2 linked regions of the Homo sapiens genome follow. The protein of the gene in region 1 interacts with the protein of each later gene in a pairwise test. Each region holds a gene or a part of one and is shown on either strand. Other genes may lie near its edges.

Region 1 (3,750 bases):
TCACCTCTGTGTCCCCACTGCCTAGAACAGGCCTGGAATACAGAAGATGCTTAGTGATTTTTGAAAGACAGCATGAAAAGGGCCCTTCACCAAAACAACCTGACTTTCCAGGCCAGGATCTGAGCACTTCATTTCTCAGGAACCACTGCTTGGCACACAACACCTGGGCTGAACAGGCAGAAGTGATCCAGCCATCTTGGGCACAGGAATTCTCCTGGCGTGAGTTCCTCCTGCTTCCCAGTCCTGACTGGGCTGCTCTCCAGCTCTGGGGCAGGATTCTAAGAACCCCTCCAGGATGGTATTCAAGAACATCCAGGAGGCGAGGTCGAGATAGAGAGGGCAGCACTGTGTGTGTGTGTGTGTGTGTGTGTGTGTGTGTGTGTGTGTGTGTGATGGGGATAGGGGCAAGGAGAATAGAAGTGTGGGCAGGGCATTTCTGGTTGCCAGCCAAGATGGTGGAGAAGGGGTGGCTTTTAGAGCCTTCCCACACTGCTGTTGCTAGGAAGACGAGGCACCTGGAGGTTGTGGCTGTTTTCTCCCCCTGCAGTAGGAACACATACTGGAACAGATGTACACACAGTCAGACATGCACAGAGTAGAGAATAAAACTTGGATTTATTCAGACCGTATGCTTCCCATTTGGGGTGCAGAGTGGGGGACAGTCATGGGGACAGAGAAAGGCAGTGCATTTGGCTTCTAGGGACATGCTGATTGCTGACTCTTTGGGTGACCTTTGGGCCACCAGATGACCAGCTGAATGATGGAGATGGTGATGAAGGGGCTGGCGGCCAGGTCCTTCTGGAGACCTCACAGTGATTCCAAACAGAGACCAACGCTGTGTCCAGTTGGCTCTGTTCCTCTCCAGGGATTAAGGAGCAGATGGCTGGGAACACTCAGACTAATTAAAGAAATAAAAACTCTGGGTAGAGGGACACTCTGGGGGGCTCCAATTCAGGCAGTGGTGTGCAAATTCACACATGTCGATGCGTGGGCCAGGCCTGTGTGAAAAACATGTGTGTGTCTGTATATATTACATCCTCCACAAGCAGCTGGGAGCCCCCATCCTACCCCCACGCCTGTGCAACTCTGTGGGCCTCTTCCAGACCTTTCTTTTTCCATTTGGAAGAACTGGGCCTATTGAAAGAACTGCGAAAGGGAAATGGCCCACAGTAATCCTCTGAAGATGCCATTTCCTCTTGGTCCTTGCTCCAGTGTACAGGAGGCAGGTACCCACTTCAGTCCTGGGGCAGTGGAGGCCAGGAACAGGTGGCAGGTGTGGTGGGAGGCGGTGGGCCTCACTGGGCAGCTGGCTGGGAGTAGCTGCAGGACACCTGCACCGTCTCAGCTTCTGTCAGGTCACTGCTGAACCCAGCTGGGCTGTGCAGGAACTGCCTCAGCAAGGGGGAGGCGTGGAGCCCGAGGTGGGAGCCTGGGTTCCTGGGTGGCTCTGCCTGCTCGGTGACTGTGGTGGAAGACATGAGGACTGTGTTCCCAAACTGGTCCACCTCCTCATACTGTTCAGTCACGGTTCTCATGGCTCCATAGTGTTGTGAGCTCCCTGGCCCCGTCTGTAGCTCCAGAACACTCTTTTGCCACCCTCTGGGCAGGGGACTGGCTGAGGGAGGGGCAGGTTCAGGTTGCACAGAGCACTGGGTGATGTCCTTCTTCCCAGTTTTGTCTTGGACACCTTTCTGGTGGAGCAGGGCCTGGCCTATGTCCTGAGCCAGTTGTGTGCTTTTCACTGAGACATCAGGGTTGCCCTTAAAGCTGGGAGTCTCTAGAGGCTTCCTTGTGGCCGACTGGATGGAGATAAATGTTGGGGAGGAGGGAGAATCTCGGCTGGAAGGTAAAACCCGAGGAGGGCACAAATACTCTCTTGATGTCTCCTGCCTCCTGGTGGAAGGGGCAGTTGAGGCTGTGTGACCTCTGGCCTCTGTGTGATTTCTGATCTTGACTTGACTCTGGGCCTCAGTGTGGCATTCAACCTTGGCTTGGTTCTTGACTGCAGTTTGACCTCCGACCTCCTGGCCTGAGCCACTGGGCCTGGCGCTACTGCTGACTGTGACACTGATCTTGTGGGCACTGTGGTCTTTTGGAGGTCCCTGGAAATGGCCTCTGGCACTGGCCTCAGGCTGGAGGCTAGACATGGAGCTGAGTGCCTTGTGCACAGCCTCTTCAATGTCCAGCAGCCTTGCCAAGGTCTGTTCCTTCAGTTGAGCAACTTCCGTGCTGACCCGTGTCAGCTCCCCAAAGGCCTGCTCCACTGAGGCCTCGGGCTTTTGGTGGGCAGCAGGAGCCTGAGGAGCAGCCCCTCCCAGCTGGGGCACGGCCTCAAAGAGCCTCCGCAGGGCCTGCACGTCCACACTGCTTGCGGCCTCCTTCTCCAGGGCTTGCACCTGGTTCAGGAGGCCCTGGAGCTCTTTCTGGTTTCTTTGCAGACTGTCAGGGCTCTCAGGGGCCCCTTGGTGGGAACCTTCCATGGGCTGCTCTCCTGAGGGGCCGGGGCCCCACTGTGGTGAGGTGGGATCATGGTTGAGGGCATTGAGCTTGGGGGGCTCAGAGCTCTGGGCATTGCTGCCTGTAGCCTGATTCTTGGTGGGCCTGGGGGCCGTGGTGCTGAGGCCATGTTGTAAGCTGGGCTGGCTATGTCCACTGGGACATCTGGCCAGAGGTATGTGGCCCTGGTCTACAGTAGTGGGAACCTTGGCTGGCTGAGGGATGGCTGTATCTCTCTCACCTCGTTGGTGTTCTCTTTGCCCCACCTCCGAGGAAAAGCTGGGAGATAGAGGCAAGGGCTTGGGCAGCCTCTGAGGAGGGTGGCTCTGGGTTAGGTGTGCAGGTTTAGGGGGCAGCTGCGGCTTCTTCTTTGGGGGCATGGTGGGGTCCAGTTTTGGGGTCTTTGTCTGTGACCCTCCAGGGGTTCTCTGGCCAGCAGGGCTGCTGTGGGAGTGAAGAAGGGGGTCCTTCAGGGGCTCAGAGGCTTGCTGGATGGAGTCCTCAGCACGGTGGGCTCCAGCTGGAAAGTCAGGTCCTGTCACAGCAGCTGGGAGAGTAGGAGGAGGAGGAACAAAGGCATTATGGGGGTGCGGGCTGGCACCTGCAGCTTGGGGCCCAGAGGCCAGAATGTGGCGGCCTAGAGGGGCAGTCTTCAGGGTGGTCTCTGCAGCTTGGAGGCCCCCTGGGCAGACTTCTGCCATCGCCTTCCCTGGTGGCCCCCAGGCCATCTGTGTGCAGCCCCCAGGCTCCTCCCGCCCTGGCCCAGTACTCTGACCTGGGCCTCCCTGGAGTGGGCGGGGAGCCTGGACTGAGAGGGCAGTCTCCCTGTGCCTTGACTGGGGTTCCCTCTGAGAAAGCTGGACACCCCCAGGTGGGTCAAAGGTCCTCACGGGATGAGCGGTGTAGATGCCATCCTGAATTGTCACCCACCCCCCAGGCAGCCCTCTGGGTAGTGCTTGCTCTTCCCTACTGACCTTTCTGGGGGCTGCTGGGATCCGGGGATCACTTCCACCCCCAGGCCTTATGTTGCTTTGGGTAGCCCCAGCTTTCCGAAGACCGTCCTGGATGGGGTTGGAAGTGGCTGTTGGGGTGGGGCCCTGCTTGTGCTTGTTCAGAACTTGCTGGTGCAGGCTCTGGGCTTCAGCTGTTGCCATCCGCAGACTCTGCATGGCGGCCAGGAGGTCTGGGGCCCCAGGCCCCGGAGGGGTAGTCGTGGCTCCTTCTGACTTTCCCAAGACTGCCATCCCTTTCTGT
Region 2 (3,809 bases), on another chromosome or scaffold:
CACCCTGAGCAGAGAGCTTGTGGCTGGTTTTCCTCAGCACCATACCCAGCACCTAGCACAGTGCCTGGCACAAAACAGGCTTAGGCAGCACTGGCGGAAGGGGCTGGATGGATGATGCTGGAGCCCAGCACTCGGCATTGCGCCCTGACCCATGCCCCCAGTCGGCCCTGGGACCCACAGGACCTGCCACGGCCCCCAACGACCCAAGTGTCAGTCACAGTTGGATCTTGGTGACCAACTTCTGCCTAGGGGGTGCTAGGTGCTTAGAAGGAGCAGAGAAGAGAAGAGGCACAGACTGTAACCAGACAGCTTCCTCTCCCCCTGGAAAAACATGATTGGAGCAAGAGGAAATTGCCTGGGCTCAAGGAATGTTAAGCAAATAGAGGACACCTGTGGGTCCAGCCAGGCCCCGGAGTACTGAGGACACCAGAATAGGGAATAATTGTGCCAGAGCCAAGTTCATCCCGCGGAGGCTTCCTGGATGAAGCAGGCCTGGAGCTGTTTCTCATCCCTTTGGGGAGCAGCCTGCCCCTGTCCTTCCTCCGGGGAACCTGAGCTGAGAGCAGCAGGCTTGGCCCCCAGCTGGGTGCTGGAGCTGGCTGAGCCTCACTGTTGTGTTTCAGGGCCCATCCTCCCACCAGGACATCCTTCATCTGCAGCCAGCGCCCCCGTCTCATGTAGTGGGCCTCCACCGCCCCCCCCACCCCCAGTCCCACCTCCACCCACTGGGGCTACCCCACCTCCCCCACCCCCACTGCCAGCCGGAGGAGCCCAGGGGTCCAGCCACGACGAGAGCTCCATGTCAGGACTGGCCGCTGCCATAGCTGGGGCCAAGCTGAGAAGAGTCCAACGGGTAAGAGCTCCTGTGTGCGGGGTGGGAATGGGACCGAGGGGACCCTTGTGCCATCTGCAGAGCGCTTGTGTTCCTTCCCGCATCTGCGAGACACAGCAAACTGCTTCCCTGCCCAAAGCTAGCTGGCCCTTGGCCACTTGTTCTCAAACGAGAAATCACATGGGACAGCACTTTGAAATTATGAAGTTAGCCTTTGAGCCTCACGTTGACCTTCACACGTGGGGCAAGAACTATGTCCCCCTTTAGAGATGAGGAAATTGAAGCACAAAGAGCACGAGTAATTTGCTCAAGTCACACCGTTTACAAATTGCAGATTTTGGACTCAAGCCTGGGTCTCCTGAATCTATGTCCATTGCCCTTTCCACTGTAGGAAGCTGTATGCTGGCAACTAGGTCCACCCGGCTGTTTCTTCCCTAACCCTTGCTCATATGTTCTAGAACTGTGCTTGTAAGAATAGCTCTAATACAGACCTTTGGCTTACATTGTGTTTCCTTCCCACAGGATAGTCTCTTCTCCCCTCCCTCCCTCCCTCCATGTGTCATGGCTGGTCTTGGCAAAGACACTAACCATGAGTCTGCAGGCCTGGGGAGTGTCTGCGACTTGTGTGACCTGGGCTGGTCCTTGTCCCTCTCTCGATTCTGGTTTTCTCCCCTGTGGGGTTGGAGAATAATGGACCAGATGGCCCCTGAGGCCCCTTGCAGTGCTGCTGCCATAGGATTCACACGCACACAGTCCCCTGCATCCCCTCACATCGTTGCTGCTCCTGTTCTGCCATCAGCAGCAGAATCTAAAACGCGGCCTCCTTTTTCCTCAGCCAGAAGACGCATCTGGAGGCTCCAGTCCCAGTGGGACCTCAAAGTCCGATGCCAACCGGGCAAGCAGCGGGGGTGGCGGAGGAGGCCTCATGGAGGAAATGAACAAACTGCTGGCCAAGAGGTGGGTCTCTACACCTCCCGAGACTTGGTGTGCCTAGCAGGAAGCTCCTGCCCCCGCCCCCAGCGCTGCACAGAGAATCCTCTCTTGACCCCAGAATCTTTGTTCCCTGGGTTTAGCCAAGCAGGGGAAACTGTTACTTAAGTTTTCCCTTCCCAAGGGGTTAGTCTGAAGCGCAAGCCCACAGGAGTCCTCTAAACTCCAGATCCTTCATTTTAGCTCAGCAAATATTTCCTGAAGCATCTACCATGTACCAGCCCTGTCCTGAGCAGAGATAAATGTGGAGACAATTTCAGAGATAAATGCGGGAAAAAGAACAGTCCTTGCTCTTAAGATCCTAACAGAAATAAGATGTGGCCGCAGTGGTCGAGTTTGCAGAGGACACTCTGGTGAATGTGTGGTGAAGGCACCCCATTCTCCAGGGTTCTTTATGGAGGACTCAGGAGAAGGAGTTATGAAGGGTAGGAGCCCAGAGGGCATTGCCCTGAGCGACGGAGAGAGAGTAGTTCCATCTACATCCCGGCCGGGCTCTTGGGCCTGAGACCTGGCCATGTGTGTCTGCTCGCTGCAGCGGGTGTGGCTGCAGCCTGCCATTGTGGCTCTCCGCTGTTCCCCAAATGAAACCCGAGCAGATGGGGAGATCGTCCAGGTCTTTCTCAAAAGGGATGCAAAGCTTGGATTTTATTTTTAAATATGACTTGGCATCAGGAATGTGCTCACCTTGGACTACCAATATCGTGGCTCACTTAGGCACCAGAGGGCACGGGAGTAGGCCTCACCTGCCAGAACAGAGGAAGCTGCAGCGGGGGCCCTGCTCCCTTGGTAACCCCACCTCCACCCCCTGCCACTTTGTCGCCTTCTCCTGGCCCTCCCAGCTGCCTTCCAATTGGCTGACCCAAGTGAGAACTCTGTGTGCCCAGGGTCTTCACACTGCAGTCCTAGTTCCTCTCATTACCTTCCCGTGGCTCCATGAGGATGATGCGAGATGACAGAGGCCCACAGCTGCAGGCAGCTGGTGTGGCGCTTCATGGCAGGGCCACAGCCTGGGTTTCCTGCCAAGGGGCTCTTTGCTTGCATCACAGATGGCAGGGAGGGGAGGCTCCCCGTGTGTCAGGGAGCAGCAAGGTGGATCCGCAGCACGGGCGTCTCCGGAGCCTCTACTGGGCCTGGGCGTTTGTACATCGCCAAGACAGGAGGCAGGCTTCTGAGCAGTTTCCTGTGAGAGTAAGTCCAGGTGTGTGGGGCTTACAGTGGCCACACAAAGGCGAATGGCTCCGTGGGTGAGAGAGCCGGGAGGGCTCGCAGAACGATGAGGACGTCCCGTGCTGTAAGAGGGACAGTGGGCAGAGTTAAGGTAAGGCTGGGAAGGCTGACGCCCCCTGTGCCTGGAGAGCTAGGTGTGGAGGAAATGGACCAAAAGTCAGGCTGGAAGAGGGAGCCTCCTGGTGCAGGGCATCGGGTTCCACCTCAGAGCACTCAGAGGCGAGGATGGGCCACAGAGAAATAGAAATAGTTTTGGAAAAGAAAATATGAATGCTTTCCCTAAGTCCTAGACCAAGCTGAGGGGAAGCACCTTTCTGTCTGAGAACAGGAAAAGGCCAGTATTGCCAGGAGCCAGTGAGATGCCAGATGCCGGTGGGAGAGTCAAGGCCCTCCCAAGAACAAACATGCTTTGCATAGCTCAGCAGGGATCAATCAGGTGCTCTCTGAAATCCACCTCAGTGATGGCTACTGGGTGGAGCCGACGATGAAAGTGCCCTTGCCAGGTTTCTTTTCATGTAGGTTGTCTCCCGCCTCTGAGGGCATGCAGTTGAGTCTCCCAACAGTGGAGGGCAGGAGGGAAATGAACGTGGACAGAAAGCTCCTGTTCAGCAGCACTTTCACAGACACTCATCCCGCCTACACTCCCCGTGAGCAGGTGGCTTGGTCAGCGTTCTGTTTCTAGGAGATGGGACACTGGCTGCTGGGGGGTAGCTGGTGAGGTGTAAGTGATCGTGGCTAGGCCAGTTAGGAGACTCTGACA

The links.
Region 2: the proteins of XIRP1 (region 1) and EVL interact in a two-hybrid assay, tested with the Homo sapiens proteins (one study listed by BioGRID).

What each region holds. Positions count from the first base shown.
Region 1 is NC_000003.12:39,182,619-39,186,368, forward strand, and holds the end of XIRP1 (xin actin-binding repeat-containing protein 1), read right to left. Parts: coding exon 1,296-3,750; 3' UTR 597-1,295; downstream 1-596. UniProt on the Homo sapiens protein: Protects actin filaments from depolymerization. Required for correct cardiac intercalated disk ultrastructure via maintenance of cell-cell adhesion stability, and as a result maintains cardiac organ morphology, conductance and heart beat rhythm.
Region 2 is NC_000014.9:100,127,896-100,131,704, forward strand, and holds part of EVL (ena/VASP-like protein), read left to right. Parts: intron 1-623; coding exon 624-853; intron 854-1,667; coding exon 1,668-1,789; intron 1,790-2,436; exon of another isoform or gene 2,437-2,565; intron 2,566-2,741; exon of another isoform or gene 2,742-3,809. UniProt on the Homo sapiens protein: Ena/VASP proteins are actin-associated proteins involved in a range of processes dependent on cytoskeleton remodeling and cell polarity such as axon guidance and lamellipodial and filopodial dynamics in migrating cells.